Homo sapiens: one gene and its partners. The protein of the gene in region 6 interacts with the protein of the main gene of each other region in a biochemical or structural test. Each region holds a gene or a part of one and is shown on either strand. Other genes may lie near its edges. The genes, in order: CARD11, FRMPD4, MAST1, MAGI2, SYNJ2BP, HTR2C and PARD3.

Region 1 (3,500 bases), on a different chromosome or scaffold from region 6:
TCATCCCTTCAGATCTCTCTTCATGTGTCTCCTTCTCAGAGACCTTTCCTGGACACCCTAGTTAAAGTAGCAATCCTCATGTTCTGTCCTCACGCCCTGTCTTCTCTTCTTGATAGCACTCATTTCTACCAAGTATCTATGCATTTGTTTTCTGATTACAATGTTAGTTCCACGACAGAAGGGTTTTAGTCTTCAGCTATGTATCCCTGGAAAAGAGCCTGGGGGCCAGGTGTGGTGGCTTATACCTGTAATCCCAGCACTTTGGGAGGCCAAGTGTGCAGATTGCCCGAGCCCAGGAGTTCAAGACCAGCCTGGGCAACATGGTGAAACCCTGTCTTTACTAAAAATAGAAAAAGGGGGGTGGGTAGGATAAAAATAGAAAAAAATTAGCTGGCATAGCATGTACCTGTAGTCCCAGCTACTTGGGAGGCTAAGGTGGGAGGATCACCTGAGCCTGCAAGGCCAAAGCTACAGTGAGCTGTGATCACACCACTGCACTCCAGCCTGGGTGACAGAGTGAGACTCTGTCCAAAAAACTCCTCCAAAAAACCCAAAAACAAAAAGCCTGGTACCCGATGGAACTCAATAAACAGAAAGAATGAACGAGGCCGGGTGCAGTGGCTCATACCTGTAATCCCACCACTTTGTAAGGCCAAGGGAGGCAGATCACTTGAGCCCAGGAGTTGCAGATCAGCCTGGGCAAAATAGCGAGACCCCTTTTCTACAAAAAAATTGAAAGAATAGCCTGGCGTGATGGTGGGCACCTGTAGTCCCAGCTACTTTGGAGGCTGAGACAGGAGGATCACTTGAGTCTAGGAGGTCAAGGCTTCAGTGAGCCATGATCACACCACTGCAGCCTGGGCAGTGGAAGACCCTGTCTCAAAAAAAAAAAAAAAAAAAAAAAAAAAAAAGAAAAGAAAAAGAAAGAAAGAAAAGAAGGAAAGGAAAATAAAAGAAAAGAAAAAAGAAGATGTAAATCTCCTTAATTCATTTGCGGAGTGAGCCATTCTGGGTCTGCATGCGCATGTGCAAGGTGGATCTGGGACTGAGCCGGTGGTGGAAAGCTGCGCACTGGGTCGGTCCTTGTGCGCATGTCTGCCCATGCGCACAGGGGATGTAGGCCGCTTACCCGGTAGCGCTAAGCACTATGGGTACACGTGCAGGTGCATAGTGGACCTAGAACTCCCAGAGGCCCTGTGTCCTCCATTCCCCCACACCTGGCTGGCAGGAAGCTCCGGCAGACCACGTGCATGTGCCTGCACCTGCTTTATGGGAGAATTGAGCCCTGGTGACATTTGTTTCCCCCGGGTCACCCTGGCGGAGTAGCCCTTGGGCACCCCTCACCTCGAGTTGGAGGTCTCGGCTCCTCATGACCGCCATGTTCTTCTCCTCACTGAGCTGTGCGTAGCGCATGGCTAAGTTGTAGTTGTCGTCCTTCACCTTGACCAGCTCGTCATTGTAGCTGTCCCGCTCTTCCTTCATCTTGTAGTACCGCTCCTGGAAGGTTAGCAGCTCCACGCGCGTCAGCGTCATCTGCTTCTTCTCATCCTCCAGCTGCCGCAACCTGGCCAGCAGCTCGCAGCGTTGCAGGTCCTTGGCCTTCATCTGCTGCTGCAGCTTGATGACCTCGTTCATCAGGAAGTGCGTGAGGCCCTCGTGGCCTTCCTCCACTGTGGAGAGGGGGCACCCAGTCAGGCCTGAGGACTGGGAAGTGGAAAAAGGAGGTTCCAGACGCAGGGCAGGTGCCATTCATTCACTCACTCACCAACGTTGTGCCAAGCTCTTTACTCACTCTGCCCACGAGGCACTGGGGATTCAGAGTGAGCGAGACTCACAGCCTTGGCCCCGGGAGAGCTTAGGGTGTAATAAGAGAAACACATTTAAAAAAATCAAATGATACCACAAATAGAATTACAGACCGTGAGGATTTCACAAAGTAAAGGTAGATGGGGCTATGAGAGTGTGTAGCAGGGGCCCAGATCCAGCCTTGTGGGCAGAGGGGGTTGGAGAAGGCTCCTGATGGTTGAGGTAAAATGTTAAGTTCGGGTGGGAAAAGGCATTCTAGGAAAGGGGAACAACATTGCCAAGGCCATATGGGGAGGAGGGAGGAACTTGGCATATTTCAGGAACTGAACGAAGACCAAAGTGGCCGAAGGAGAGAGAGAGAAGAGAAAGGCGAGGCTGGTGGTGTCAGCAGGGACTGGATCATGAAGGGTCCTTGTGGGCTGCATTAAAGACCTGGGACTTTTTTTATATTTTAAAACAGGGTCTCGCTCTATTACCCAGGCTGGAGTGCAGGGGCATGATCATAGCTTATTGCAGCCTGGAACTCCTGGGCTCAAGCAATTCTATGGCTGCAGCCTCCAAAAGTGTTGGAATTTCAGGCATGAGCCACTGTGCCTGGCCAAGACCTGGGTCTTTACAAAGAAGCAATGAAAAACCACCAAAGGGTTTTAAATAGGGGAGGAAGAATGGAGAAAGCACTGGAACAGATCGGGAATGGATATGGAGAGTTAATGGGGTTGTGGGAGTCTGGACTGTGGGAAGTGTTGGGGCGGGCGAGAAGACTGATTCAAGAATGTTTAGAAAGGAAGATTAAGAAGGCAAGATGCTCAAGGGCTCTGGCCCATGAGACACTAGAAAGAATGCAGGCAAGGCAAGGACAAGATCTACGGGGTAGAATGAACTTGTGTTCCACCTGGCGCCATTCATGGGGGATGGTCCGTGAACACCCACTTCTCTTGGTTCCTGCTTCCCTTTGCCCCTGTTAACCTTTCATCATCAAGCAAAATAAGTGGTTGACAGACCCCAGTTCTATATGTCATAGATTCACAGCTTAAGAACCATGCCACTACTGAGGACACACACACACACACACACACACACAGACACACACACACACACGCCCCTCCTCTTAGAGTCCAGATGTTCCCAATGGCAAAAGCACTTACCCACAATGGTGGAGAATCTCCGAGTGGGCTCTTTCCCAGTCACCAGTTTGTACAGTTCTGGGTAATAAAATTCTAGGCTCTCCAAGAAGACCACATAGCCCCTTTGCCCCTTGGTATGTAGAATGTCCAACAGCCGGCCTAGGGGAAAGACCAGATCACTCTGTGAGAATACATATCTGATGGAACGCAAGTCTCTGTGGCTGGTCTCATCCTGGACTTGTGTCCTTCAATCAACTCTAAGAAGACAGTCTCCCCACATTCTATCACTTCTGAGTTGTATCTTGGAGCCCAGATGACGTAAATCAAGGTGCCAGGCCCTCCGCAGGGATTTGGTGAGCGTTAGTTTTCTGTTTCTAATAAACTGGTAGAACCAGGATAAATGGAATTGCCGCCCCAGTTTTGAAGAGTTTCCCAACTGACCAGGGCCAAAATGAACCACGTAGGCACCAGGTCTTCTATGACTGAAGGAGGTTGGAAGCACGATAAAAATTATGGAATAATATATGGTTCTCTGGGATTGAGAGCAGGAAGACAAATCTTTGGGTGAGA
Region 2 (3,500 bases), about 100 Mb from region 6:
TTTTGACTTTTTAGAGTGTCTACATTTAACTATTCGTTTCCAGAATCTATACCCTTTTAATCGTGGGAAAAATCAGAATTGACAGTGCCCCTCAATAACCCAGTACCATTAAAAAAAAATTGCTGCCAAGTGTTGGAATTGCTGGTAAGTAGTTGGCACCCTTTACATCATCAGTTAGAGTTATGACCCTTGATTGCATCCTTCGTGGGTGGCACAGTGTGTCATGGTTCTATCTGAAGATGGTTTTTCCCGTTCTTCTAATTTTCTGGTTCTTAAACTGCTTGATAGTTTACATGCAGTTTTACTTCACTGTTTCCTTGGTAACAGTTCTATATTATTTTCCATCCTTGTAGATGAGAGCATTACAGATGATTGCCTTATAAACCAGTAATAGTATAAAAACAGGCATATATTTTTATTGTTACTGCTCTTTGTATTGACTATTTTATTTGTAAAGCAGATGCATTCTTTCAAATGTTTATAGAAGAATGCAGTCCAGTAGAAAAACATATGATTATGCCCCTTTTGCCAGAGGGAGATGATTTGAGATCCAAAACTCATAGGGATGTTATTAAATTGAGTGATATGTTCATAGATTAAGTCCCTGATTTGGCTTCTTTTCTTTAAGCAAAACGGTAGACTTGATGATAATGATTGAGTCCCCACTGTTGATATGATGATTTCTTATAGTAGTAGGTAAATTTGGGGAATGCTTTACTTTGCATTTTCTTATAGTTGCATGGGTTATTTTGTGGTATATAGCAGTGACTAATATCTAATATTAGAATGCTAATTTTCTTACAAGTATCTTATATTTGAGGAAAAATACAAAATACATATGTATAGTTTCCTTAGATTTTTATGTCAAGTCCATTTAGATACTACTAAACTTCTGTCTTTTACCTTTATCTTATTCAGAATTAAATATTTCCCAGGGAAAAGGGGAAGTTAAAGAAGTAATGCAAAAGGTCAGGGTTTTTCCCATATCCCCTATTTTTACTGAGTAATTGTATTAATATTGCTGATAATAGTGAGCTCTGGAGGCTAGCAATGAAAAAACCCCAAAGACTCTGGATTTGAATTTTATTAAAAATGCTACTTGCTCATCTTCTGAATCCTTTCTAAGTTCTGCTGATTTTTGTGACTGTCAGGAGGTGAAATGATGAACAGTTTCATAACAGAACTAGATTCCTGTTTTAGGAATATTTAACTCTAGTTTCCCAAGAGTTGCTAGTTTGAAGCTGTGAAAGTCTAGTCGCTCGCAGTTCTGGGAAGAAGGCGTCTAGGTCAGGCTTTGTACCATTTCAAGCATCTCTCTCTCTCTCTCTTATTGTCTGGGGCAAGTGAGTTTCACCTTCTTGCTATCAGAATTTGGTACAGACTGACAGCTGCAGTGAAACTTACTTGTACTTTAAATGCATGACCTGGAAAGTCTCACTTTCTGCTTATGGTCCTTCCAGCTGTTCATTCTCCCCCTTTACATACACATACACTGTTCAACTTTAGTACTTTGTTATTTCATTTGAGGTTAACCGTGGAAGTTTAGCTGTAAGAGAATGTACATTATTGGTGAACTAGAAATGTATCTTTAAGGAATGAACTTGAAACCACTGGTTTCACACTTGGCTCAATAAGAAAACTCAAGACCGTTTAAAATCTTTGTTTAAGCATACCGTCCTGAAATCTACCACTGTTACCATCAAATGATCTTTAATCTTGAAAGCTAATCATAGCAGGAAAAGAAAATTATGAATAGGCTAAAACAGGGGTTGGCATACTGTGGCCTATGAGCCAAATCTGGCTTGCTGACTGTTATGGCATAGCCTGTGAGCAAAGAATGGTTTCTTTATTTTTAAATGGTTCAAAAATATCAAAAAAAGAATAATATGAAATTAAAATTTCAGTGTCCATAAATAAAGTTTTATTGGAACACATGTCCATTCATTTATGTATTATCTATGGCTGCATTTGCCTGACAACAGCAAAGTTGAATAGATGCCACAGAGACCTTATGGCCTACAAAGCCTAAAATATTTACTCTCTGGCTCTTTACAGAAAAAGTTAACTGACCCCTGGGTTAAACAATGCCTTTTTCCTGTTTTCTCTTCTTTATCATTAGCAGCACACATGTGGGCACACACATGTCAAATCGAGCATATTATAATAAATACTTGAATTCACTGACCCCTGGGTTAAACAATGCCTTTTCCTGTTTTCGCTTCTTTATCATTATCAGCACACATGCGGGCACACACGTCAAATTGAGCATATTATAATAAATACTTGAATTCACTAATGCACATTACCAGTTAATATAGACCTTATCTTTATTGAAACTTCTGATCTCAAATTACTTCTTGAACTGTTGGAAACTGACCATTAGAAGTGGACATAATTGTCCTACTAATTTGTTGCACTTGGAAAAATTATGCATGCTTATTCTTTGGTCACTAAGTTGACCTGATATTTTTGGGGAGCTGGAGAGTTGCTTGTTAAGGTGATGTTTGCCTTCCATAAATATCCAGTTCAAAATGTATGGAAAAAGAATGGGTGATACTACTTGTATAGCCTCAACCAATGTGTGCTGGTGAACTGATAATCAAGTCAACAGGAGAATGCCTAGTATTTCCTTACAGTACACTTGAGCCATCTGGTCCTAATGGCTAATGACCTTCACTAATCTGTTTCCAAATGGAAATAAAACCAGATAAGTGGATTTAGTTGTAGTCAGAGGAATGGAGGTAGGCTGTATCAATTTGGAGTTGAGTTTAATCTAACTTTCCTATGATTTGACTGAGAGCATTATAATGAGAAATCATAGACTACCTTTAGTTCTTTACAGCAAAAACATATATCAAAAGTATGCTGCCTTGCTTCTGAGTAATTTAGGTCATTATGTACTTAAGCTCTGAAAATTATCTTGAAGAAATCTAAGCCTTAGTTTTAGATAACAAAGTTAACATTCCCATTTTTTTTTTTTTCCTGGCAAAGAGATGAGAAGGGTTTTCTGCCAGAACTGTTCTTTCAGAAATATATTTTCAAGTATGGTTTACAGAATTTGGCATAAGATAAATAGTCTATACTAAATAATTAGTGAGTGAAGTCATATACAATTCATTCTAACATTTGTTGCAAACAAATTGTCATATTTGTTTAGCTGAACAATTACCATGTCAGTACTTCTTTATTGAATATAACGGAATACAATGTACATGTTAAAAGTAAATAGCCTGCTCTTGGACTTGGTCTCAGAGAATAAACTTTTATTTCTGTTTTTACATTTGAAGTATATATATATTATATATATAAAATATAATATATATATTTGGTGATTGATGGTTAAAAAGTCATCAACTTGTATTTCCAAGGAGTCTCTGTTTTACTGCTTTAAGCTCAATAAGCAAAGTTATGATGATATTGAAATGGGTTTTTATAGATGTCAGTAAGTTTTTATTTTAGAAAGTCTTTTTTGAAAGCTAGGAAAACACAATCATTTCTAT
Region 3 (3,500 bases), on a different chromosome or scaffold from region 6:
TTGCAGTGAGCCGAGATCCTGCCACTGCACTCCGGCCTGGCGACACAGTGAGTCTCCGCCTAAAATAAAAAAGTAAAAGAAAAAAGAAACAGGTTTAGAGAGGGAAGAGGCATAGAGGGTCACAGAGGTGTCTCACCCAGGCTAACTGGTTTGAGCTGGAGGGGCCTTTTCCCCACCACCCTCCACTCTGTGATGGAGACTCCACCCATGAGTACTCACCCAGACAATGTGGTGGACACTATAGACATCCGTGTCACCCATGTAGACACGGATGGCACGCAGTGTGAAGCCATACTTCTTGCCCGAGCGCTGGATGGTGATGGGGGAGCGGAGCCCACTGACAGCTGGTGAGTAGTCCCGGCTGGGTGAGGAGTCCCGTGAGGATGGGTTGGAGGACAGAGATCGTGGAGACATGGGACTAGCAAGGGGTGAACTTCCATGTGGGTCCACTACAGACACACAACCATGGTCAGAAATCAGAACCAAGAAGATAGACATCTCCCTGTATCTGCTCCTCCCTCCTCCCAAGGCAGTGGCAGAGCAGCCTCTCATTGGTCCAGCCTGGAGCCAATCACGGTGGACAGGGAAAATGCAGCATTTTCATTGGTCTGTCCTGCCTCAAATGGGGGGCAGCCCCTCCCCTGCCAGGTGGGGCCCAGCATTACCTGCAGGAATCATGACAGATAAGGCAGTGGCTGAGGCTGATTTGATGACTTTGCCCCCAGTTCGAGAAGGCCTCTTCTCTACTGCCACATCCCCTGACATCTGCTGGTGCCGCGCCCGGCGCAGAACCAAGTCATTGGTAGCCCTTGGGCCTGATGCATCCCCATCCTTCGAGGGTGGGCAGAGGTCACCTGGGCGTGGACGGTCAGCTGCAACAGAAAGCAAGTGTGTTAGGAATTAGTCCAAGGCCAGGGATTTCCCACATACTGTTTCCCTGCCTGGAATGCTCTTTCCACTTTTTACCCTTGATGGATGGTGAGTTTCATCTGAGCAGGTAACCTGCATGCCTCACTGCTCCTCATATAGAGACATAGTCTGTATCGGTCTGTATCACTGACTGACCATGGTATTGGGGTGTTTCTAATGTTAAGAATCCCAAATTGGGCTGGGTGTGGTGGCTCACGACTGTAACCCCAGCACTTTGGTAGGCCAAGGAAGGCAGATCACTTGAGGTCAGGAGTTCGAGACCAGCCTTGCCAACATGAAGAAACCCTGTCTCTACTAAAAATACAAAAATTAGCCGGGGGTAGTGGCGCGCGCCTGTAATCCCAGCTACTCGGGAGGCTGAGGTGCGAGAACCACTTGAACTTGGGAGGTGGAGGTTGCAGTGAGCCGAGATCACGCCACTGCACTCCATCCTGGGTGATGGAGTGAGACTCTGTCTCAAAAAAAAAAAAAAAAAAAAAAATCCCAAATTGCAATGTGAATAGGACCTGAGATCTTTCATAAACAGCACCAGGCTCGTGGGATGCTCACTATATGACCAGTAGGACATTGGGGAAGATTGGGGAAGGCAGCACGATAGGGCACTCACTGGCCTCGGAGTCCCCGGCGCTGGAGGTGCCTTCCCCTTGAGTCTCCTCTTTGGGGGCCCGTGCATCCAGGGATCCCGCGGGGTCGGAGCTGGGCCGGGGAGGCCTGCGCAGCCGGGCCTCATCCTCGTCCTCTTGGGGGGCGCTGAAGCGGCTGGGCTCCAGCAGCGCCGAGAAACGGCGGCGGGCGCCCAAAGGGGGACTGGCCTCTCCCTCCAGGAAACTGGCCTCGGACGCGGAGAATCGCTTGCTGCATGGAGGGGGCGTGGTTATGGAAGACACGCCCCCTTCGACCCCGCCCCCAAACTCCGCCATTCCCCTGCTCACATCTCCGGAGAGCCCCCTCTCCAGGTCTTCTCACGCAGGGTCAGGCCGCCCAGCCCCTCCCGCTTGCCGGCCACCTTCTCCTCGGGGCCCTTGGTGCTCGGCTCCCGCTTGCTGCTCCCTGCAGCTGCTACTGGGGTCTTGGGCTCGTGCTGCGACAGCTGCTCCATGCTGCTATACACCTGTAGGTGGTGGTGGGAGGCAAGTCCAGCCCGGGTTCCACTTTCACTCCGGAGCTAATCAGCTTCCTGGCAGTGGATCCCCCGCAAAACGCACTCCACCCTCCGAGGCCTGGCTCCGCCCAATTGTGCATGATCCCCCAACCTACAATTCTTCAGTTCAGGCCCCACACCACAAAGTTAGGCACTGCGTTTTATTCTAGGCTCTGCCCCGACGATGCCCTGACCAATCTGCTCTCTACACAGCCCCATCTTCCCAGCAACCCCCTTAATTTATGTCTCCTTAGCCCAGGCTAGGCCCTGCACGCCTCTACAAGTTGCTTCTCAAAGCAAGGCCTATGGCTTCTCTGCCCGTTATTAGAAAAAATAAAAATAAATAAATAAAAGCAAGACTTCGCTGGGCTTTACTCCGCCTTCGCTGCTGGCCTCATTCCCACGTCCTGACCCCGCCCCACCCACACCTAGCCCCGCCCCACCATGGCCTCAATCTGCACAACTGTCCTGATTCCTGTTAGATTCCACTCAGTGCCAAAGGCCCGTCCCATAGACTCCCGAACCTGCCTCTTGCGTGGCCTTACCACCTTCCAGACTCCCGCCCCATCAATAACTTCCCGCTCCTGAGACCTTGGGCACCAGGGAACCTGTTTCTCACTGTCTCTCCAAGCCCCATCCCTCCTGGGGTCTCGCCCTGTCCCACACCCAGACTTGGCCCACCTTGCTGAAGCGCGGAGAGCAGGAAGAGAACTGGCGGATTTCCACGGGCTCCTCCTCCGTCGTGTCATCCTCGTCATAGGAGTTCACGTGGTGATACCTGTCTGAGCGGGCTGGGGAGCGGGTATGGGCTGTGACTGAGGGTACGGGGTTCCTCCTCATATCACATCCCCACAGGAGCCCAGTCCTGGTTCAAGACGGGTTTACAAGTCTTCAGGTCAGGCCACGCCCCTGCCTCATTAGTGTATTTAATTTAGGCTCCGCTCCCAGGCAAGGTCCTTGCCCCATTCTCAGTGGCACCGTCTAGCCCCGCCTCCAAAGAGGCCACGCTCCACCTACAGTGCTCTGCACCCTGGCATCACCCCAGGCCATTCTGAGCGCTAGTACCTCTCTCTAGTTCAGTTCCAGGCCCACACTCACAACTCACCCAGGCCAGGCCCCACACCTAGCCCAATCTCAGGTTCTTACCTACATTTCAGCCTGAGCCCCGCCTGTATGTCAGCCCCGCCCCACTTGGCCCCGCCCCCACCAAAATACCACCTTCGCACCTAGGCATCACATCTTGGTACTTAGCCAGGCCCTATCCCAGGCTTTACTTACCCCAGGGTCCCTCTTCCCGGATCCCACCCCTCGACCCAGGTCGTGCCTGGTGTCCCAGCTCACTGTCAAAGTAGCTAGTGTCATCTTCCGACTCTAGGTGGGGGATGAACTCGGCCTTCTGCCTCAGCAGCCCTGTCCAGTCCAGGTCTCG
Region 4 (3,500 bases), on a different chromosome or scaffold from region 6:
CTGAAGTGAATGACCATTTAGCAAACAAAGTAAATTTTCCAGCAATGTAGTAATGAAAATATATGCTTAGCTTTCAAAAGAAATGTATCTTCTTATTTTTATGGAGAAAAAATTTGATAAAATTATAAGTATTTTCACAAGGATGATCTCATTTTCACAGTAGCTCTGCAAAAGAGGAAATGTAAGAGATATTTTTATTCCCATTTTATAAAAGAAGAAATTGAGAGATGGGGAGATCAAGTGACTCTTCCAATTCTCCGTCTTAAGTAGGCCAACAGGTTAGAGCCAGAGCCAGTCTTCCTGATGATGTCCCTTTCTGTGCTCTTAAACCCAATCTGTCTGAGGACTTGGCATGGCACCGTCAGATGACATATACCAGGTGTCTTATATTTTTATTTCACGACATGTAAATGACATTCATACAGCACAGTCTATTAATATTCTATCCAATAAGTTCTATCTGAACAAGCAAATGTTTGCTGACATCCCCGTCTATAAGAGTTTTGGGCATGACTTATTATCTAGACATCTATATATTTTTTTAAAGTGGGCAGTTGAGTACCATCAAGTTGTTATATAGTTTTATCCTGTGATAACTGACCACTCATCTTTTACATTCAGAAATCTTCTACGTATCTTCATAAAGATATTGTTGCAGTGTTCTTTATCCTTGCCTGATGACTTGAAAAATTGCTGTTAGTGGAAAATATCCATAAATTGTAAAAGGCAGTCTTACTAAGAAACACAAATAGTTCTCACTCTGTTTCTAAATAGCAAGATCACATTAAAACTCAAAAATAGGTAACATTAATCACTACAATTCAAACTACTACTCTCTAGACCTGGCAGGGAAACTTGAGAGCTTTCAACATAACCCTTAGTTCTTTCCCGTGAAATTCTGGCAGAGCAGAGGGAAGGAGAGAGCGTGCTTGGGGACTGGGGAGTCTGTTAACAGTGATTAAAGTTAGGGAGAGCCTTAGAGGAAGTGGCATTTGTTACCTCTCTGACTTTTACTTGGCCATTCAGAAACCCATTGTTTCCACAATCATACTCAAGTCATCCTTGACTGTAACTGTGGTGGGAATATCTGGGTAGAACTGTCCTGATTTTATAGAAGAATATAACAAAGGACAAAGAGTAATTACTGAAATAGCAATCATCTTTTGCATAACAATTTACAGCTTAGAAACCCTTTCACCTGTATGATCTCATTCGTTATTTCCCATGGAACAATAAGTTGCTATTACTATTGTTCATCATTACTTCTAAAAAATCTGAGTCACAGAGGATTGAAGCCAGTTTGGGAAAGTTATACAGCTAATAAGTGATGAAACTAGAACTCAGACCAAAGTCTTTTGACCTCATATCCCATGTGATCTCTACTATACCTTGCAGCCTCCTGAACCTAAGAAGAATGTTGGAGCAAGAATGAAAGTAGACATAAAAAATAGTCAATGAGTTAAAAAAAACTCACTGAATAGGAAATTGAGGAAATGAGGCATACCCAAGAGAAAATCCAAAAGGCCAATAAACATGAAAAGATGCTCACCTTCACTGGCAGTCTGGGAAATGCAAATCAAAACTATGATCACATCCATTAGATTGGTAAAAATTAAGTCTGAGAATACGAAGTACTGTGTCAGATGTAAAGCAATGAAAATTTCAACACACTACCGATCAGAGTGTAAATCAATGTGACCTCTTTTGTCAGCCATTTGCCACTATCTAACAAAGTTGAAGATGCACATGGTCTGTGCCAGCATGGGGTTCATAGCAGAGTTATTTTCAATAGCCACAGATTTGTCATAACTCCGGTGTCCATTAACAAAAGAATGGATGAATGTTATTAAGTAGTAATATAGCCATCACTAAATACTGTATTACAATGAAAACTAATCAACTAGAGGCACAAGTATCAAAATAGATAAATATCACAAACATATTTTAAGAAAAGTTACAGAATATTAAAATATATACCATTTACAAAAGGCTTAAAATATGTAAAATACTTTCCAGGGATTATTATTATTTAGAGATTAGATACTATTTAGAGATATTGTTTTTACGGACACCTAGATATGATATAAATTATAAAGGTATATGTAAATAACAAACCTCAAATAGGGCAATGGTTACCTTGGAAAGGGCTGTAAAGGAGTGCAAGTTGGGGGAGAGGTGCTAGCCAAGGGGGATTCAACTAATATGAGCAATGTTCCAATCATTAAGTTGGATGTTAGTATACAAGTATTTGTTGTTCTTTCAACCTTTTAAATGTAGAAAATATAACATTAAAACTAAAAGAAACAGGAGAGAAAAATAGTCTATCTGAATCAGACACTTCTCTGGGACACTGAGATGAATGGAATCAATTAAAAACGATTCCCAAAGCATCCCCAGCTGCCACAGTCTGAAGAGGAATTATAATAACAGTGAGGGAATGTCCACTCCAATTCAGTTCTGAGCCGTGGACCCACGTTCCAGCCACCACATCAGTACCCTCTCTGATAGACATTATGGAAAAGTGAAGTTCCATCTGACCAATCACATAGGTTGTGACATTTTCTAGAGGCAGACCTAACCTGGATCCCTGAAAATGTCTGCTTGGCCTCTCTGTCAATTTGGGAAGAGGGACTGTTAATTAAGACAATGCTGTTAATTGTTTTATTCATTTTATGTTATACACCTACAAAAGACCAGAAAAGTTGTCAACTCTAAAAGTTCAACTCTGTTTTTCATTTTTAACGTTTGCAAGCTTGCTGGGCAAGGATGTCTCAGAATGAAATCCCTAGCCATTTGTACCTCCCATTCCAGAATTATTCTGATAAACTGATGTCTGTTGAGTTGCTTATTTCAAGATCTGTGAAAACATGTCTCTTCATCCCTAATATACTCCTCAGCATAGTCAGGCACAATCTCAATTTGCAAGCTCAATTTTCAAGTATTATGGTTTGTGAAGATAAAAATACCAATCCATGATAAAATAGTTCTCCAAAAATAAAATTGTTATTCATACATAATTGAAATTTTTAAAAAAACATTTATCTCAAACAGCCATGATTTTCTGCATTTTAAGCAGGAAAAAATATTTCTCTGAATATATTTTATAATGGATAATTTGCATTCAGAGCATTTCTAATCATAAAGTTAGCCTCTAACCAGTAGACCTCTGAAAATCTGTGATAGTTCACTGGGGAGAAAGGACAAGTGCCTTTATTGAAACTGATCCACAGAAATATTAGTTTATCTAAGATCAGAGGATGAACTGTGGCAACTTTCTGTTTGAAACCAAGGGACCCAAATCTCCTCCATCCTATTTTAACAACAATCATATTAATAATAGTCCACATTTATTGAGCACTGTGTGTCATACACTATGCCAAGTACTTTTCCTACATTATGTCATTTCATTCTCACAACTTTACAAATGAGGAACTGTGGCTCAAAGCAGGGAACTTGGTCAATATCATGTATCTGTTAAATAGTAGAGCCAAGGTGTCAAC
Region 5 (3,046 bases), on a different chromosome or scaffold from region 6:
GCGTGGCATCTCACAATCTGTGTTTTTGTAATCCTTCCAGGTGACTGATTCATGCTAAAGTTTGAGACTCATTGCTCTATGCCAGTCATCATTCCCTTTGCTCAGGTTAGAATCATCTGGAGAGCTTATAAACGTCCCCATGCCCAGGCTGCACACAGATCAATTAAAAGGAACCTCTGAGGGTGGGACTCAAGCAGCAGTAAAATAAAGTTCATTGAGTGATTCTGGTGTGCAGCCGCAGTTGAAAATGTTATATAGCATTTAAACAAGACACTATTTAATTAAACACTATTTAAATTATTAAATTACATACATTGCTTCAGGCAAAACAACAACAACAACAACAACAACAAAAACTTGGGCCTTTAGAGCCCAGCTTCCTGAGCTTCTGCACGAAGTAAGTGGAACATTCATTTCTTCCTGATTTGCTAAGGATTGATCAACCTCCAGCAAAATGTATGATTAGTGAGTGTTTCAGTTGGTGCATCAATTAAATGAGAACCAATCATAGAACATTGAAGCTAAAAAGGACCAGAGAGCTTCTAGGATGAATCTGTCTTAGAGATGAGAAAAATAAAGGCTCAGAGAGGGAAGCTAACTTAACTCTGATCAGACTTAGTTTGTTGCAGAAGTGACCTTTCTGTCTCATATTTATGTCTTGAATATATTCACTACATGAATACACAGACTACCCATTTTATCTTAGTCTACTTCTTTCTTCTCTCTTTGGGCCTGAATAAAGACCAGAACTGATAGACAGCTAAAGGATATTGCAAGCATCATTATTGGAATTGGGAGATTCCACAGAACAATCTGAGAATGATCTCATATCAAATCCAATCAGATGAGTTATTCTGAGACTAATTCCAATAGTTCTAGAGACTTTTTTTTTTATGGTGGACATTGTTTTTATTGTGTAAATAAGCAATTTTTAAAGTATATTTAAAGAAATGAAACATAAGGAAGTGTATAGGCTGTCAGGTATGTGGGGAAGTGAAGTTCATGTAGTTTTCATGTGGAGCCCATACAGATTTTATTATAGTCAATTTTAGTGAAATTTATCGTTGGTCAGATGAAGGTTTTTTTCCTTCATTCAGCAAATAACTAATGACTGCCTACTATGTGCTAGGTGCCGAAGATAGAGAGATAAATAACACTTAGTCACTCTAAGCTGAAATTGCTCAGCATATGAAAGTGGAGGAATATTTGTAGGTGATTTTGATGTTAAAGTATTTTTTTAACATCACCTGGTAGTAGAAGATTGAGTTATGAAGCTGTCTACCTCTCACCTGTAATAGTTTTAGAGTTGGTTGCTATTTTGGTGTAAGTCTTTTTTGCTGTTCCTCTTTTAACTGCAAATCTTTTTGAGACCAGCACTCACATCCAAAAGGGCAATTGTGATAAAAAAGAAGACAGTATTTTAAGGATTCTGATCAGAACCAGATTCTTTTCTTTTCTTTTTTTTTTTTTTTTTTTTTTTTTTGAGACGGAGTCTTGCTCTGTCGCCTAGGCTGGAGTGCAGTGGCACGATCTCAGCTCACTGCAATCTCTGCCGCCCGGGTTCAAGCGATTCTCCTGCCTCAGCCTCCCCAGTAGTTGGGATTACAGGTGTGTGCCACAACGCCTGGCTAATTTTTGTATTTTTAGTAGACACGGGGTTTCAGCATCTTGGCCAGGCTGGTCTTGAATTCCTGACCTCGTGATCCACCCATCTCGGCCTCCCAAAGTGCAGAACCAGATTCTTAACTGCCACAGACTCTTGTATTATGTAATTTATATACAGAACACAAAGCACTTGATTTGCTTAACTGATGTACTTGATGATACTATAAAACCTATATTATGAGAAAGCATTGCTCCTTCAAAGGAATCAAGTGATAGCAAACACTCGGTCCTGTTTCCAGGTTTTCCTCACTGTTCATTTTGCCTTTGTTCTTGCAGGGGGAGAATGAAAGGGGCGAGAGCTAAAGTGTGTTGTCAATGCAAGTCAATCCTTAACCAACAATAATTTACAAAAGAACTTTATATTTGCTGTAATCATTAAATTTAGTTACTAATCCCAGGAAAAGGGTTAGTCCTTCCTCCTAGTTTGTAGATTTGCAAATGGAGATGAATAATTGAATCCTATTTTAATCTTTTATCTGCAGTAATCTGGGCTTCTTATTACCGGATATATTTGCATTTTACCTCCAGGCCATGTTAGTTCTTAGAAGATTATTTTCCTCATGAACCCTGTTTTGTTTTGCTTCCTTTCTGCTTCAATTCTAATGTCACATTGCATACCTGGATGTAAACAGCAGTCAGTTTCTCAGATCAAATAGAGCCCTGTAGCAACTTGGAAGACACAGAAGACACACGGACATAAAACTGTATTTATTATCCAGGGAATGTCACTACGGATTAATTATGTTAATGAGGCCATCAAAATCTATGGTAATCTTTCAGGCTTTGTTGTTTGATACCAGATACAGCAAATGAGATAATAATGTGTCTAATTGTGCCTAGCCAGTATTGGTATTTAATAAAACTTTGTCATTGAATCTTTACAATCTTTTTTCACCTTATTTTGAAGACCGTTGATTAAATATCTCATTTTTTTTTCTTCCAGATGAGGGTTTTTTCCTTCATTCAGCAAATATCTGATAAGTGCTTACTATGTACTAGATATTCTTAGGGTAACACCTCTGACAGAATTGTGGAAAGAGGAAGAAATCTAAATGATCAGTTTGAGGCTTTGACATAGGAGATAAGGAACAGGACATTGATATCCTGTTAACAATTATGGAGCTCTTATCAATATTCCAGCTTTTGTTCTAAGGCCTTTGCATGTATAATATTTATTTAAGCCTCAAAACAACTCTTAAGATAACTGCTGTTGTTATCTTCATTTTATAGATAAAAGGCATAGAGAGGTTAAGTAACTTGCCCAAGTTATACAGCTACTAAGTGCCAAAGCTGTGATTTAAACCCAGGCAATCTGGCTTCAAAACCTGCATTCATAACTATAACACCTTACTGTCTCTACTTCCCATGGTACCAGGCACTG
Region 6 (3,500 bases):
TCTGTATTCCTACTCTAGTCCTCCATTGCTTGCGAGTCTGAAATGATCGTCTCCACCTGTCAGTCATATCTTCAGGTTTATAATGCATCATTGGCAAAAGTGAACTAGAAGTCATAATCATTTTTCTTGGGTTTTTGTCTTTTTCTGGATCTTAGCCAATAGCAATTTCTATTTCATTAGCTTCTTAGGGCTTTTAGTGTTTTATCCATGTGTTTATTTGCCTTTAGCACAAGAGTCATTGCAAATTACTCAGTCTTTCATTACTAGAAGCTGATGCAACAATATTCTGTCTGTGTATTTCCTTTGTAAGCACCATAAAAGCTGGCATCTTTTTAGATGAACTCTTTGTGATGGCTAGGGCAAAATCTGTGAACTCTTGAATTTGTAAGTCAAACTTACGTAAATTCATTTTTGTCTTTTGGGACAAGCTTCACGACTTTTTATTCAAAGGTGTCTATGCTATACACAGGCAGAACAATCTACAATAGAACAATCTTAAAACTTAAATGTATTTGATCAATAAACCCAGAGTCAAAATATTTAGATGATATTAGTGAAGATTAAATAGAAGTCTTGATCTTGTTGCACACTTTACCTCAATCTTTACAAAAACATAAATATGAAGAAAAATTATTTACACCAACTGGAAAAGGAAAAAAACATGAAAGTAAAACCCCTAAAGTCCAATTGTTTAAATTTCTTGGCTTTAATATTAGCACTGTTAAGGCATTTATGAATACCTCAAATATAAGCAATAAATGATCATTTCTTTCCCTTTAAACTGCTACAAATCTTTAAAGAAACAAATTTTTTTTTCTTTTTGTATACCCAGAATTCAAGAAGACAATTAAAACTGAGAGAAAATAGTACATTTTAGGTGTCATAGCAACAAAAATTTAGACATATTTACTTGATGATGATTTAGATTGCATTATTAATTTTTCTACTGAAAAGGATAGGAATTTAGAATAAAAATACTAAGGTTAATATTCTGGGATACATGTAACTTTTCAATATAAGATTGAAATGTTATATTTTTAAAATTTAGACTTTAATTAGACTTTATGTCTTTCTCATTTTCAAAGCATTTTAAATATTTCAAACATTTTGTATCTGTGTTGCAGAATTCATTGGCATACTAATGCATAAAATAATTTAGCAGCATAAATGGAAACTTTATATTTACATATTAATACACATTACATTCCTTTCATTATTGTTAACCTAAATATCAGATAAATAGGTTAAGAATAATTACTAAATAAAAGAACCCGATCAAACGCAAATGTTACCAGTCGACGTCTGTACGTTGTTCACAGTACATAATCCGAAAGTATTGAGCATAGCCGCTGCAATTCTTATGGCCAAAAAGTTTTATTTACCTATAGAAATTGCCCAAACAATAGCAATCTTCATGATGGCCTTAGTCCGCGAATTGAAACGGCTATGCTCAATAGGATTACGTATTGCTACATACCGATCCAGCGATATAGCGCAGAGGTGCATGATGGACGCTGTTGAAAATAAAACATCTAAAGAAATCCAGACGGGGCACAAATATCTAGGTAGTGGCCAGACATAATCTGAAAGAGAACAGAGAGAAGACAAGAACACGTCATCCAAATTGTACTGACTATAGTCTCAAATTTTAGTCTGCTTATATTTTCTCATAATCTAAACCTTTTAAAGAAAGTGAAATTTAGGAAGCATTATTTTCTATAGGGATGATGATGGTGATCATGATAATGATACCTTCAGCGTGACATATATTTTATTGAGGTAAAATTTACACAACATAAAATTAATCTCTTTAAAGTGTACAATCCAATGGCATCTAGTACATTCACAATATTGTGCAACTAGCATCTGTCTCTAGTTCAGAAACATTTCATCACTCCAAAAGGAAACTGCATACCGTTAAGCAGTTACTTCCCATTCTCCCATCAACCAGCTCCTGGCAATCTCTAATTTGCTTTTTATCTTTTTTTTTTAATTATTATTATACTTTAAGTTTTAGGGTACATGTGCACAATGTGCAGGTTAGTTACATATGTATACATGTGCTATGCTGGTGTGCTGCACCCATTAACTCGTCATTTAGCATTAGGTATATATCCTAATGCTACCCCTCCCCCCTCCCCCCACCCCACAACAGTCCCCAGAGTGTGATGTTCCCCTTCCTGTGTCCATGTGTTCTCATTGTTCAATTCCCACCTATGAGTGAGAACATGCAGTGTTTGGTTTTTTGTCCTTGCGATAGTTTACTGAGAATGATGATTTCCAATTTCATCCATGTCCCTACAAAGGACATGAACTCATCATTTTTTATGGCTGCATAGTATTCCATGGTGTATATGTGCCACATTTTCTTAATCCAGTCTATGGATTTAACTAATTTGGATATTTCATATAAATAGAATCATACAATTTGTGACTTTTTGGGTCTGGCTTCTTTCACCTAGCTAATGTTTTTGAGGTTTATCTATTTCGTAGCATGTATCAATACTTAATTCTTCTTTGTGGCTGATGCTGTTATCAATTGAGGTTTTTTTGGAAGCTGTTGTAAATAGAATTGTTTTCTTAAATTCTTTCATGGATTGTTCATCACTGTGTATAGAACTACAAATGTCCTGCAACTTTGCTGAATTCATTTATTAGAGCTATGTTTTGTGTTGACTCTTTGGGATTTTCCATATATAAGATCATGTCTTCTGCAAATAGAAATAATTTGATTTATTCTTTTCCAATTTTCCTCTGCCTTTTATTTCCTCTCTTTGCCTAATTTCTCTACATGGAATTTTCAGTACCATGATAAATAGAACTAATGAAGTTGGGCATTCTGCCTTTTTTCCCTGATCTTAGAGGAAAATCAGTCTTTCACTATTGACTGGGTTTTGTTTTTGTTTTTTATAAATGCCTGTCAAGGACATTTTCTTTTATTCCTAGTTTGTTGAACATTTTTTTATCATAAAAAAGTGATGGACTTTTGCAAATGCTTTTTCTGCATCAATTGACATAATCATGTGGTTTGCATACCTTCATTCTATTAATGTGATACATTACATTGATTAGTTTCTGTATGTTGAATCCCTCTTGCATCCCTGAGATAAATCCCATTTAGTAATGGGTATATAATATGGTGCTGAATTTAGTTTGCTAGTATTTTATTGAAGACTTTTGCATTTATATTAATAAACAATACTAATCTATAATTTTCTTGTAATGTCTTTAGCTGGCTTTGATATTAAGATAATGCCAGTCTAATAGAATATATTACAAAATGTTTCTTCATCTTCTATTTTTTAGAAGAGTTTGAGAAGAATTGGTGTTAATTTTTGAAATGTTCGGTGAAATTCAAAAGGAAAACTTCTTGTCTTGAGCTTTCATTGTTGAGAGGTATTTGATCACTGATTCAATGTAGTTACTTTTTATATGACTCTTCAGATTATTTCTCCTTGAGTCACTTTTGGTAGTATGTGTGTTTTTAGAAATTTTTACAT
Region 7 (3,500 bases), on a different chromosome or scaffold from region 6:
CGGCATGTGCCTCTAGTCACAGCACTTGGAAGGCTGACATGGGGTGTTGCGGGCTACGGTGAGCTATGACTGCACCACTGCACTGTAGCCTGGGCAACAAAGAAAGGCCCTGTCTCAAAAAAAAAAAAAAAAAAAAAAAAAAAAAGAAAGAAAAAGAAAAGAGAGGAAAAGAAAAGAAAAAAAAGAAAGGGAAGTAATGCAATAATACAAGAAAACAAAAGACAAGAGTCAATGGCCTGGCTTCTCAGCAACCTACTATAAACTCCTGGCAGCCTCAAACAAATTGGTCCCTCCCCACATCAAATACTGAGATTGACGTGCACTACCTCTAAAGTCCTCCTTGAGGGCTGGACTTATACAGCAAATGGGGCAGTCAAAATGGTCAAATCCTTACTATTGTTCTGCATTTGATATTAATGTCCTGAAGCCATTTTCTTTCACAATCAAAAATTTTACTACAGTAACTGCTATCTTCTTCTCATAGACATAGTCTTATTCTCTGCACTTTTACATTTTAATTTCTACAGAGCAAAATAAACCTGAGACATATAAGAAATACAATTTGAAATATGTTAAAAGGTAAGTAACTTTAAAAAATCTATCAGTTCTTTCACAAAATAATTAGATAAGACTCAGGGTGCTTTGGGTTAGTAGGTTGACTTTTAAAATAAATTCCATTTCTACCCTTGTGTGTTGCTGCTAAGAAAAGAAATTCCACAAAACAAAAACAGGATAGGTCGTACCTTTCTTAAGCTGGATATTAAGCCTCTTGCCTATTTTTTTGGTGTTATAACCACTGCTTACAGTCGTACTAAATACATTCTGAGGTGCCGAGGCTGGAGCGGATGGTGGTTTTCCCGAGGGGTGTGCGCTATGAGGTAGTCTTGAGTGAGAGTCTATCTGCTCAGGCGGGTGGTTCAGTCGGGGTGCTCTCTGCACCGTGTGAAGCCCTGCACTGTTCACACTCCTGTTGTCAATATACTGGCTGTCAGGGCTAAAACGGCTTGAATAGTAATTGTTCTTCTCACTTTGGGATAGTTGTTCATACTGCTCTTTATTTGCTGCAGGAACCACATGGAACCAAATGATGGGTGTACGCATGGCTTGGCGAAACATATGTTGTGCTCTGGGTTTGAGAAAGAATAGAAAATTAGCAAATTAAGACTGGCAGACTAGAAGATATTATGAGCTTAATTAAGTTTACTAATTAAGCAATAAGAACTGACAGGCTGTTGAAATTGAAAAGCAAAATTCTAATAACCCATTTATCAATCAAGTTTGCAGCTCTGATCTATCAATAGCTGTTTCTTCAAATATAAATTTCTCATTCTCTCAATAAAAATAGAAAAATTATCTACAACTACAGATAAAATTCTGTCCTCTCAACTGTAAATCATTAAACATGTTTTAAGTATAACAAGTATTATAATTTCAATAATAGAAACCAAATGGAACATTCTCTCTACAACATTGTCTAATACAACTTGTAGACATTACAAAATACTTCAATTTAAGTTTTCAAAGAAAGACAGAGCTTTATAATTATATTTAGAATATTGGATTGGGTTAGATGTGTATTTAAAATTTTTAAAATACACACACACACACACACACACTTAGAAGACTATAGAAAGTAACTATTAATTATTTATTAAGTTGGTATATGTAAAAATCTCAAGAACAGCAATCCAGGCTCAATAATTCAAAATGTTGACAGCTGTGGGTCACAGTGCACCCATACAACCAGCCTGGGAAGCAGCTCTTTCTCATGCTGGTTCCCTGGTCAGGACCTCAAGTTCTTAAGAGTTCTGTTTGCTCCTGCCTTGTTTTATAAGAACTGGCCAACTGTTATGTTTTTCATTGACTAAGGGCCTGAATCAAGATAAAGTGTATCTGAATACAACCCAATATTGTATCTGAATACAACCCAAGATAAAGTGTATCTGAATACAACCTCAAGCAGATACAAACAGCTTTATCTGCTTGTTTGTATCTAGAGAAACTGTGTGCAGCAAAGGTGGACGGGTGAGTTAAAGTATGATAAAAATGGGCACACTGTCAATTTTCCAAAAGGAGAGGAACCAGCAAAATTGTAAAGTTGAAATGGGGGCCATAATACTTAAGAAGAGCTATATCCATCAGAGGACATTTTGAAATATAGTCTAATGGTATTAATTACTGAGTATGTTTAAATTTTTAAAAGCTAATGGCAGAAAATATTCCTCTCCAGTATACAGACTGAGATCACAGACATGTTTGAAGCATTTCAACTGACTGCACTCTGTCATGCCTAATGCAAGTAAGAACAGAAGTGCAGCGAGCACACACTTACTGTTCAAATCTTCTATTTCGAAGGTCGCCATCATTAATCCTGACAATGCAATCATTCTCACGAAAAAGATTTTCATGTTCAGCTTTACCACCTTTCTCCAATCGTTTTACTAATAACCCCAGGGTTCTGGAACATTAAGAATGCAAATGATTACACATGTAATATCTCCACCATGCACACTGCCTTACCACTTTAATGCTGTTATTATATTTACAAAGATGTCCTTACAAAGGAGCATGTTAAAATGACTATTCATACATTTTTAAATGACAGACAAAAACCACAACGTTAAAATGACATGTAAAAATGCATCCCTTCCATAAATGTAAAAAATCAGTTTCTGGCTGGTCAGTATTATGTTTCTAGAACAAGCTATAACACTCTCTCTGTTTACAAATGCCCCAAACAGAGCCCGCCTAATGGTTGAGTGGGTATTGCAGTGTGGAGGATGGATAAGCATGTATTTTTGAATGGCTTGGGCAATTTTCTGTTTTAAGCCAGCTGGCACGCTAGCTTAAAAGACGACTGCAACTCCCATCTTTCTGTGAAAGTAAAGGTAATGAGGAAAAGCTAACCTCATTGCACTGCAGGTTTGAGAATGATAATAGGAAAGATTTCAGGAATAAAGGAGTTTCCATGCTTTGCATTTGAATTTGATAGTGCTTAGTATTGTGAATTTCAAAACCTGTCAGGTCTCCCAAAAGTAAGTCATTTATTGTCAATATTCCCATTTGGAAAAACAAATGACCCAACAGAAAAACGTCAGTGAGAGGTTCAAATAATGCCAATCACCATTCATCTCTTCCACATATGTACTCACTCAGGTTGAAAGAAAAGTGTGAATGACCTTTGAGAGACCCCCTACTTGCTCTAGAACACTAACTTCATAACTGACAGGACATTCTATACAGACTGGGACAAATAAGAAATACTTCTTTAAATCACAGTATAAGCAACAGGGGTCTTAACCTAGCTCTGATTGCTGTTATTTTTATTTTTTTAGTCTTATTTTATTCTTTTTTGAGATGGAGTTTCGTTCTTGTCGTCCAGGCTGTAGTGCAATAGCATGATCTTGGTTCATTGCAACCTCCACCACCTGGGTTCAAGCGATTCTCCTGCCTCAGCCTCCTGAGTAGCTGGGATCACAGGCATGCGCCACCATGCCCAG

What was found.
Region 1: the proteins of HTR2C (region 6) and CARD11 interact in a test that uses a peptide from one of them, tested with the Homo sapiens proteins (one large-scale study listed by IntAct).
Region 2: the proteins of HTR2C (region 6) and FRMPD4 interact in a test that uses a peptide from one of them, tested with the Homo sapiens proteins (one large-scale study listed by IntAct).
Region 3: the proteins of HTR2C (region 6) and MAST1 interact in a test that uses a peptide from one of them, tested with the Homo sapiens proteins (one large-scale study listed by IntAct).
Region 4: the proteins of HTR2C (region 6) and MAGI2 interact in a test that uses a peptide from one of them, tested with the Homo sapiens proteins (one large-scale study listed by IntAct).
Region 5: the proteins of HTR2C (region 6) and SYNJ2BP interact in a test that uses a peptide from one of them, tested with the Homo sapiens proteins (one large-scale study listed by IntAct).
Region 7: the proteins of HTR2C (region 6) and PARD3 interact in a test that uses a peptide from one of them, tested with the Homo sapiens proteins (one large-scale study listed by IntAct).

The regions. Positions count from the first base shown.
Region 1 is NC_000007.14:2,942,868-2,946,367, forward strand, and holds part of CARD11 (caspase recruitment domain-containing protein 11), read right to left. Parts: intron 3,090-3,500; coding exon 2,952-3,089; intron 1,671-2,951; coding exon 1,345-1,670; exon of another isoform or gene 1,168-1,344; intron 1-1,167. UniProt on the Homo sapiens protein: Adapter protein that plays a key role in adaptive immune response by transducing the activation of NF-kappa-B downstream of T-cell receptor (TCR) and B-cell receptor (BCR) engagement.
Region 2 is NC_000023.11:12,141,473-12,144,972, forward strand, and holds part of FRMPD4 (FERM and PDZ domain-containing protein 4), read left to right. Parts: intron 1-3,500. UniProt on the Homo sapiens protein: Positive regulator of dendritic spine morphogenesis and density. Required for the maintenance of excitatory synaptic transmission. Binds phosphatidylinositol 4,5-bisphosphate.
Region 3 is NC_000019.10:12,866,015-12,869,514, reverse strand, and holds part of MAST1 (microtubule-associated serine/threonine-protein kinase 1), read right to left. Parts: coding exon 3,413-3,500; intron 2,863-3,412; coding exon 2,753-2,862; intron 2,042-2,752; coding exon 1,863-2,041; intron 1,786-1,862; coding exon 1,538-1,785; intron 873-1,537; coding exon 666-872; intron 450-665; coding exon 220-449; intron 1-219. UniProt on the Homo sapiens protein: Microtubule-associated protein essential for correct brain development. Appears to link the dystrophin/utrophin network with microtubule filaments via the syntrophins. Phosphorylation of DMD or UTRN may modulate their affinities for associated proteins.
Region 4 is NC_000007.14:78,257,168-78,260,667, reverse strand, and holds part of MAGI2 (membrane-associated guanylate kinase, WW and PDZ domain-containing protein 2), read left to right. Parts: intron 1-3,500. UniProt on the Homo sapiens protein: Seems to act as a scaffold molecule at synaptic junctions by assembling neurotransmitter receptors and cell adhesion proteins. Plays a role in nerve growth factor (NGF)-induced recruitment of RAPGEF2 to late endosomes and neurite outgrowth.
Region 5 is NC_000014.9:70,365,999-70,369,044, reverse strand, and holds the end of SYNJ2BP (synaptojanin-2-binding protein), read left to right. Parts: 3' UTR 1-2,546; downstream 2,547-3,046. UniProt on the Homo sapiens protein: Regulates endocytosis of activin type 2 receptor kinases through the Ral/RALBP1-dependent pathway and may be involved in suppression of activin-induced signal transduction.
Region 6 is NC_000023.11:114,846,086-114,849,585, reverse strand, and holds part of HTR2C (5-hydroxytryptamine receptor 2C isoform a precursor), read right to left. Parts: intron 1,584-3,500; coding exon 1,383-1,583; intron 1-1,382. UniProt on the Homo sapiens protein: G-protein coupled receptor for 5-hydroxytryptamine (serotonin).
Region 7 is NC_000010.11:34,381,797-34,385,296, forward strand, and holds part of PARD3 (partitioning defective 3 homolog), read right to left. Parts: intron 2,459-3,500; coding exon 2,333-2,458; intron 1,127-2,332; coding exon 744-1,126; intron 1-743. UniProt on the Homo sapiens protein: Adapter protein involved in asymmetrical cell division and cell polarization processes. Seems to play a central role in the formation of epithelial tight junctions. Targets the phosphatase PTEN to cell junctions.